Regions from separate parts of the Homo sapiens genome. Here regions 1 and 3 are each reported to be linked to region 2. The links are microRNA targets in miRTarBase. Many come from high-throughput screens and were not tested one by one. Region 2 holds a microRNA gene; each other region holds the end of a gene's coding sequence. Distances are between the middles of the regions.
Evidence for each region. The annotated mature microRNA hsa-miR-4735-3p reads AAAGGUGCUCAAAUUAGACAU and lies in region 2 at 890-910, shown strand. An mRNA with a match to its seed (bases 2 to 7 or 8) in the 3' UTR can be bound and repressed. Matches are read on the target gene's strand: a 7mer-m8 pairs with bases 2 to 8, a 7mer-A1 pairs with bases 2 to 7 and ends in A, and an 8mer does both.

Region 1 (3,096 bases), 50 Mb from region 2:
CTTGGAAACTGCCTGCCAAACACAGGTCAAGGTGGAACATACATCCTCCTGGGGAACGGCTGGTCAACCAGTCATGTCTAGGAGTTGAGAGTTCTACTGTGGGAAGAGGTGGCAACAGCTGATAACACAAAGCACTGTGTAGACCAAAGTGAAAGTCCACCATCAATTGCTGTTTCTAATTCAGGTGACTTCTGTTATATTATGGAACCAGTTAGACAAAAGCAGGTAGTTAAAGCTGAAAAGATATCATCAGTCATGGTTGGTTCATTCTGTTGGTAATGCCAATTGTTTTCACAGTCTCATGGGTGACAGGAAAAATTAGGACCCTAAGACTACTGGGAAAAACACGTGACACCCATGAGTGTACAGATAAGATTGAGAGAAGTTATTAGTTACATACATTCATAGACAAAAAAGGGAGGGTTCTGTAAACGAGGCTGGTCCACACAAGACTTGCACTACGGAGCAGATAGAACAAACAGGGTGTAAGGGGAATGCTTTGTAGTATCAAGAACGTGAGATGCTTCTTGGTTCTCATAAGGATGCAATTGGTTTGTTTAAATGCATCTGTGGAATGGTAGGCAACTGAAATATGTTAGGCTACAGACTGATAAGATCAAAATAGTATGTTATAATGCCATAATCCTGTAATATACAATTTATTGTAGTGCTAATTACACATAATATAAACTAGTTATGCATAATTCATAGTAACTTACAAAACTGTACTATACCACATATTATATAGCTACTTATACACATATAAGTATACATGTAGACATGCTATATATACAGATGATGCTATACTATATGGTATACTAGGGCACACCAATTTGACTATAAATGCAAAAGGCCCCAACAATACACTGGAAAATTGAACGTTATCAATATGGGTTGAGTGTTTCTTATCTGAAATACTTGGGAACGGAAGTGCTTTGGATTTCAGACTTTTAACATTTTGGAATATTTGCAGAAAACTTACTGGATGAGCATCCCTAATCCAAATATCAAAAATCCTCTAATGAGCATTTCTGTTGAGCATAAGACTGGTGCTCAAACAGTTTTTGACTTCGGAGCATTTCAGATTTGGTATTGGAATCTGGGGTTTACAGATGTTCAACCTGTAGATAAAATACTTATATTCCATGATGAAGACAAATTTCACCCAGATAACCATAATATATTTATATCTGAAAGCCAGTTAACGTAATAGACTATCAGTAGAATGCCAAAAACCACAAATCATCTCAATAGATGCAGAAAAAAACATGTCATAAGAGTTCAACACTCCTTTACCATGAAACAATAAATAAAAAACACAAGAAAACTTCCTGAGCCTGTTTGAGAATATTTATGAAAAATCCACAATATACTTGATGGTGAGACTGAATGCTTTCACACGCAGATTAGACAAGCATACTGTCCAATCACAGTTCTCTCTTCTTAATTCAAAGTAAAAAGTGGGCCAGGTGTGGTAGCTCATGTCAGTAACCCCAACATGTAGACAGGCTGAGGCAGGAGGATAGCTTGAGGCCAGGAATTCAATACCAGCCTAGACAATACAGCGAGATCCCATCTCTATAAAAAATTTTTAAAATTATATAATTAGCTGAGCATGGTGGCATGTGTCTGTAGCTCCAGCTACATAGGAGGCTAAGGTGGGAGAATCACTTGAGCCCAGGAATTTGAGGCTGCAGTGAGCTAAGACTATTATTACCACTACACTTCAGCCTAGCTGACAAAGTGAGACCCTCTCTAAAAACATAACATTTTTTAAAAAAGTGAACTATGCAAGTAACAGCCAAAACTCATGACAGAATAAAGGAAAGAAAATGAAAATAACAATGTACATGAGACTATATAAACTTCACATACATGCAAATTAATAACAATTCTTTATTAGCAAAGAAAACAGAAGAAAATCTTTACAACAAAAAAGTAGTTTTCCCATAAAAAGGTAGAATACACACACACACACACACACACACACACACACATGAACTCATTTTTCATTGGTCCATTAATTAGAGAACAATTAAACAACTACATGAAAATTAAAATTGCCTACTATTAGAAATACATTTCAACTTAGTCTAGGGATCCAACAAATTTTTAAATGAATAGACAAAAATTATGTTAACTGATGAGAAACAAAACACAGCCTATTAAGCTCATGTACTATGGCTTATAAAGTATCTGTGAAATTCTCAGCTCCATGATTCCCTGCAAAAAACTGAAAATCTAAAGTATAGACACCTTCTTTAACAATGAACCACTGATAAAAATATATTTGAAAGCGGCTGGGAAAATAAAGTGTTCTAACACATTTTTCGTATTTTATGACGTTCTTTCCCAGGACGGGTCCTTCTAAGTTTTAGAAGGGAACTAGGAAAATTGCATACATTCTAATCTTCCTTACATGTGTTGGGTTTCTCTCTAATTTGAGTTTTTAATTTTTTCACGTGTTCTAATGAAACTAGAATAACTGAAAGCTTTAACACACTTCTTACATTGACAGAGGTGTTTTGTTGTTGTTGTTTTTTACCACATATAAGCTCTTTCATGCTTTCGAAGGGAACTGGAACAACTGAAGGCTTTACCACATTTCTTACATTCATAGGGTTTTTCTCCAGTATGAGTCCTTTCATGGCTTCGAAGGGCACTGGAAGAAGTAAACGACTTACCACATTCCTTACATCCATAAGGTTTCACTCCAGTGTGAGTTCTTTCATGCTCACATAGGTTACTAGAATATTTGAAGGCTTTACCACATTGTTTACATTCATAGGGCTTTTCTCCACTGTGAGTCCTTTCATGGACTCTGAGGACTCTGGAACATCTAAAGGCTTTGCCACATTTTATACATTCATAGGGTTTTTCTCCAGTATGCGTTCTTTCATGTATTCCCAAGTAAGTGGAACGACTGAAGGCTTTGCCACATTCCTTACATTCATAGGGTTTCTCTCCAGTATGAGATCTTTCATGTTGGCGAAGAGAACTGGAAAAAGTGAATGATTTACCACATTTCTTACATGCATAGGGTTTCTCTCCAGTATGAGTTCTTTCATGTTCACGAAGATAACTTGAATAATTGAA
Region 2 (3,188 bases):
TTTGTGTTTAAATATGGTACCAACATGCAACCAGCCACCCAAGGCTGGATTATTAAATTCTTTTTAAAGCTTGGTTCACTACAGATCTCATTGATTCAATTCATAGATGGCTCAAATTGTTGTCCTCATGAGTCCATTTTAATTATTACGCTTCTAATTAATGTGCCTGCCTTTCTCATCTGAACTCTTGAGAGGTGTTTTAATTTTTCTGCCTCAGGTCTTCCTTCTGGCTGCCATTGGACAATTCCTCTCTCTGGAATGAATAACAACCTCTGAAGACATCCCACTCCACCTCTACATGTCACATGATATTCACCTATTTTTTGACCAGTTATCACTTACATAATCTTTATCTCAGCATTTTAGGAAGGCTTTTTCGCTATGCAAATCTCTGTATTTTATAATCCTGTATAATTATATTTTATAATCCTGTATAATTATATTTTATAATCCTATGCAATCTGTATTATCTTCTGTATTTTATGCTTTTCAAACCTTTATTGTACTCTATTTGTTCTACTTTATTTAGTTTGGACAAGCTGAAGCAGGTGACATGGTTCATCTGTATCCTTGCCTGATGCATCACTGAAATGTAAATGAATTGGTGGTGAGAGAATAATTCAAAGGACTCAGTGTTTGAACCAAGCCTAGTCAATGCTGTCAATGCTGCTGTATCTTGGGTGTTTGTGGAGGCACTAAGGTAGTGGCCAGGACTGAAGAAATTGGGAACTTGACCTTATAAGGCAGCTACAAAACTTGCCCTCTATCATTCTAACCAACCCTTCCAAACTTCTAAAAATCTCAGCTCCACTTCTGCAAGTTTATCTTCCCTGCTTGCATAAAATTGCAGTGCCTAATTTGAACACCTTCGGTATTCATCAAAAATACCAAAGGTGCTCAAATTAGACATTGCATTTTTTGCGCATGTCAAGTTGAAATCTATTCATGGATCTTTAGCTCCTTAAGAGAACATGCATATAACATTACTTTTTACTAGCATTCTTCCAAGTACTTTACATGCCCAACGAGAAAGCATAATATTATCCCCATTGTACAGCTGAAGAAACAGGCATAGAGAAGTTAAGTAATCCGTTGGTGATTACAAAGCTAGAAAATGGCAGAGCCAGGAACTTGAACCCTGTTTTTCTTGGCCATTAGGCTTGCTGGAAGGGGATACTAAGATGTAGGAAGGGAAGGTGGAGATGAGGGTCTTTGTTGATTTTCCTAAAAAAGTTGGCGTTGTACTGGCATATGGAGAGAAGTTGATAAGTAAATATTAAATACATACATGTTGGTTTTGAAATATATGATAAGACTTTTTAAAGTCTACCTGAAGAACTGGCAGTATTATTGGTTCTCCCACAGAATTTTCTTATGAAAGACATAATTTTCCTGAAATGTGAACATAGAGGCATTTGTGATGCCTATTATCCAGCTGTCATCTGTCTATTCATGTTGTACACATCTACTATAATTTAAATAGGAGAACAACAAAATGAAAGACTTAGTTTTCAAAACATAAGTAATGGAAGAAAGTGAATTTGATATATTTTTATGACAGCTTTTAGTAAATACTTTTAAAATGAACTGAAGTTAATTTATGCTTGAGTGGGATTTCTTTCTCTTTTTGGAAAGTTTTTATAAATAAATGAAAGAAAATATGTTCTTACTAATAACAGTTTCCCCTCCATCTTTCCCCCATCTCCTTAGGATACTTGTGGAATGTCTCTAGAGTGAGTCGGCCACTGAGAGGACTTTGTATTGTGTTAACTTCATTATATTGAAATTTTGGAATAGCCTCAGGGAATAAGGGACAGAAAAAAATGGGGCAATATTCACCCGGTGGCATTCATTTTCAGTAAAGAGCAAGTAAAACCCTTTATTAAATTTAATGTTTTATTTTTGCTTAGTTTGGAATATACATGTGTATTTCACATATATAAAAATAGAACTTTTTTTACTAAACTGGTCCAGATCTAGATATTTATAGGCATATGGAATTTGGAGGTTACAAAATTAACTTCTAAGAATAAATATTTCCTACTCCTCAAGTATCATGTAAGAATAATTTTTCTATGACAATAAAAAAAGCGAAACACTACAATCTGACCCATATTTTCTTGCCACAGATTAGCATTTATGTGATCTTATTCTAAGCCTATGTGGTACAGAAAGGTAAAAATGCTAAAAGAATGACTATATCACATATATACTAATATTTCAATGTTTAATTTTCTGAAAAAAAAACTGTACGTTTTGTAAATAGCTGTAGCAGCTATAGTCAAGATGATTTCTTGAGAAGAAATTACCTGTTCTTTAAAAAATGTTCTTGCCAAAATAATGATTGTACATAGCTCAAAAATCAGCTATTATTAGAAGGCTTACAAGAAAACAAGAACAAGTAAAACAACAATAACAAAAACCATCTGGCCCCTGCCTTCACCTTGTCAGCTTTTCCATGATGTACTTTTCAGAAAGAAACACTTTGAAGCCTTTTGAGTGTTTTTCCCTGCTTTTATTCTCTATAGTCAGTTTCACAGTTTCTCAATTTGAGGGAGTATTCATTGACTTCCTACTATGAAATATAAGGATTTAGCAGTCTAACTATACCATCACAACACACATCTCACTCCCCATTCTTCCAATACAGTAATTATTTTTGTTTAGAGCAATACCATGTATGCATATTATATGACTATTTCAGTTTTGCTCAGAACTGAGTAATGAGTATTATGATTATCATTTTCTTATTCAACTGTCTTTGTTTCTAAGTATATACACATTTTCATTTTGTTGTCTGCTAAGTTTTCTAGTTACCTATTGATAGTGTTTCACCAAGCACTGTGGTAGAACTATAAAGCCTTTCTCAGGGTAATCAAACACATCAGACAGTGTACCTGTGGGGAAGGTCCAGGTTATGCTGTGGAAAGAAACACTCTCAGATCCTCCGTGGTTCTCTTCTGTGGAGTTACTCAGGAACTCCCTCCCCTCCCACTGAACCATCTTCAAGCTTCATTCTGTACCCACATTTCTGTGGGATTGTTTATCACTTTTTTCTCTGTTGAGCTGGGGCTTCCATTCTATTATTTCTTCCATTTAGTATTTCTGGAGCTGGGACTTCCATTCATAATAAATCCATTATCTTAGGAATGCTCTTCACTTTCTTTACTTGAGTGTCCTATTTGCTG
Region 3 (3,096 bases), not on the chromosome of region 2:
CTGCAGAATATTGACAGACCCTGCATAGAGCCCCAGACACTGGCGATGTAAACTATTGGCCTAAGCACTTGGATTCCTTTGCTCCTACAAACCAGCCCACCAGGCTAGAAACCCTTTCATCTATACTTGGCCAATTACAGAAGTATTGATTGAGTTCCTGTTGGGTGCACAGCATTGAGGACAATGAGCCCTGCAAAGCTTACCCTTCAGGAGACACAGGATACCTACCTTCAGGGAGCTTATAATCTGACTATGTACAAGCTGTCTATAATGGTAGTTTTTAGAAGATATAAAAAAAGATAAAGGATAATTAAGGGGAAGTGGATGGAGGACACAGAATAGTAGGAAATGGTTTTGTAATGCTCCATTGCGCACATAGCAAACCTCATTCAACATACAGACCTGCTCCCTTTTCCCTAGGTCCAAAGACCTTAAAAAACCTGGAGCTAGAAAGCAGTAGACTGGAGGCTTCTACAGACTGTAGGATTCAAGGTGATATTTGCAGACTGGCTTTATGAGAGACAACACTGATCTACTAGGGGCTGGACCCTAGATTGGTTGCCAGGGCTTGTGTGTGAATCAACCCTAGGAGGAAAAACCTACTACCAAACCAGAAGAGCAGGCCTAAGAGTACTTTGAGCTTCTAGAAGAAGTAAGCGGGAAAGGAAGAGAAAGAGTAGAAAGTTGGTGCATCTTCTCCTCCCCAAGAGCCTGAGTATAAGAAGTTGGATTTTAAGGGTGGGGGAGCTGGGTTGGAGAAAGGTAATATAATTAAAGCCACCACAAAACAACCTAAACAAGCCATGTTCATGAGTAATTGTAAGTGGCTTCTGGATGAGACCTGGCAGTGTCTCTACATACTTCCTCAGGGAGATAGCAATTGAAAATGTAATTGAATAAATAAGGAAAGGAACTGCTATTTGGTGTGTTCCTCTGTGGACCCAGTTTATTTAATCCTTAAAATAATATTTTTGGGAAGACATTGATTTTGTCCATTTATGTGGATGGGAAAACTGAGACTCATTAATTTGTCCAATGTCGAACAGCTGGTGTTAGTAGAGCCTAGACTCAAACCCAGCTTTTAAAGCCCTTGTTCTTTACTCCACTAAACTGTAACCTGTAATCCTGTATGCACTAACAGGAGTTTTCGGTGACCTTGAAAACACAGATTACTATAATTACTATAATAAATCCCTTACATTCCTGTCTCTAGCATGGTTTAGGGAGTGCCAAGGCTCAATGTAGATGGGGTCACCTTGTCAGAGCATCTGTTCATACAGAAACTGGGTTTCCTGCAGACCCCAGGTGCTGCATAGGATTCCTCAAACCCTACAGGATATATCTCCCCACTGGCTGCTGTCCATTTTGCTTGTTACCCTGACTCCCCCTCTTCAGCCAGAGCAGTCTTTGTAACTAAAGCTGCCAGCCTGGCTCATCTTTCCTGACAACGTGCATCTCCTGCCCTGTGATCACCTTTGTGCTTGGCTCCTGCCCTCAGCCTGAATGTGTTCTAGGAGGCTGAATTCCTGCTTCGAGTCCTGCCCAAGAGCCAGTCTTGGCTCAGCCCTACCTCACTCTCTCCCAATTCTTCATTCATAAAGTGCCAAAAAGATTAGACCTGTAATTTGTTAGCCAGCTTTACAGGGCCAGGACTGAGTGAGTGCCTCCTTAAACTTTGTATCCTGTGTGCCTCCCTTGCCTTACCCTAGTCCCAGCCCTGCAGCTTTAAGTAATTCAGACATGGATTAGCCATTTCCCAGTTCTGTCTCATACAGTCCAGCCTCTGCCACCTTCCCCACCCCTTCCTTTATTCCATCCTAACTAGTTCAGCCCTAGTCAAGACTGGATAGACTGATACTGCTTTGTTTCCCCCAGGAACCAACCACCCAACCCCAGTATTCTGGTAATTTTGACAATGATCTATATGAAATTTATTTGATTGACATTTAGACTCATGAGTTAAGCTTCTGCTGACCATTTATGTTAGGGTACAATCAGAGGAGCAGAACCACTAAGATAAAGATTATGTATATATGTATTTTAAGGGATTTATTATAGGGATCTGACCGCATGCCATTGTGGGAGCTGGTTAAACAGTCTCTGTAAGGCTGTTGTCTTTGCATCTAATGCTGGAGCTTGAAGTCTGCAGGGCAGGCACTCGGGAAGGGAAGATGGATGTAAAGTGTGGGAGACCGAGGACACAGTGGAGCCCACGAGCACGAGCTGGAACCCACGAGGATGGCCTGGAACCCATGTCAGTCTCTCACCACCTCCAGCTTCGATGATGTGGGTGTCCTGCAGAAGAAGCTGGTGCCCTTCCTCACAGAGTTAAATATGCATCTGGCCCAGGAATTAGAGAAGCTGAAAGGATGATCCTGGGGAAGGTGGAGCAGCTGCAGGCCTGGCTGCAGGCCTGACTACTGCCCACACCAACGAGGTGATCTAGCAGATACATGGCAACGTGTGAACTGCAACAACGCCTGGTGCCCCAGCACCAACCTTCCAAGTGTAAAAACAATGTGCTGCTGCTTCACTTCCGCCCTCCGGTTATCAAGCAAAATGTCTCTTGTGGCCCATCTTACTGGAAGAGAGTTCCGGGAAACATAGCCTCACCAAGGTGACACATTACAAAGCCACCCTACCATGAATCCGCTCCCAAGGGTCTCACTGCTCACCTGAGGATAACTCAATATAACTATGTGGCTGAAAATGCAAAGCTGAAGACCATGGATTTCATGGTGATTCCAGCAAGTACAGAGATTCTATGAAGCCCACCCAGAAAAAACTTGCTGGTCCTGGCTATTTTTGTGTCATTTATTCAAGTATTGAGAACCTGGCCTGTGGTAGGCACTGTACTTAATACTAGGATACAGAAATGCAAAAGATACGGCCCATGCAATTTTATTAAATGCATCAATATGTATTACAAATGGTGAATGGATTTCCAACTTTATCATGGAATTTAATGCTGAATATATAGAATTCAGAAAATTGTTGGGAGGACAGCCCTTTTGTGAACCTTGTTTGGGGCACAGTAGGAATTGGAAATAATTTAGTTTCTATCTCTAAGCTGTTCTATTTTAAAATTATTTTTAA

Region 1: the mRNA of ZNF670 is a reported target of hsa-miR-4735-3p. Seed matches in the 3' UTR shown: 7mer-A1 at 1,655-1,661.
Region 3: miRTarBase lists MBD1 as a target of hsa-miR-4735-3p. The part of its 3' UTR that is shown has no 7-base or 8-base seed match.

Annotation. Positions count from the first base shown.
Region 1 is chr1:247,034,908-247,038,003 of GRCh38, forward strand. ZNF670 (zinc finger protein 670) reads right to left here. Exons shown (of 4, transcript NM_033213.5): 4 at 1-3,096. The coding sequence ends at 2,542. All of the region lies in intron 1 of ZNF670-ZNF695 (ZNF670-ZNF695 readthrough (NMD candidate)), which reads right to left. Among named protein-coding and RNA genes, the nearest start is that of ZNF695, 28 kb to the left of the region's middle.
Region 2 is chr1:196,580,139-196,583,326 of GRCh38, reverse strand. MIR4735 (microRNA 4735) reads left to right here and starts at 846; the gene lies at 846-914. The region is part of intron 1 of KCNT2 (potassium sodium-activated channel subfamily T member 2); the gene reads left to right.
Region 3 is chr18:50,268,865-50,271,960 of GRCh38, reverse strand. It overlaps MBD1 (methyl-CpG binding domain protein 1), which reads left to right. Exons shown (of 17, transcript NM_015846.4): 16 at 421-492; 17 at 2,143-3,096. The coding sequence ends at 460. Among named protein-coding and RNA genes, the nearest start is that of CFAP53, 3.9 kb to the right of the region's middle.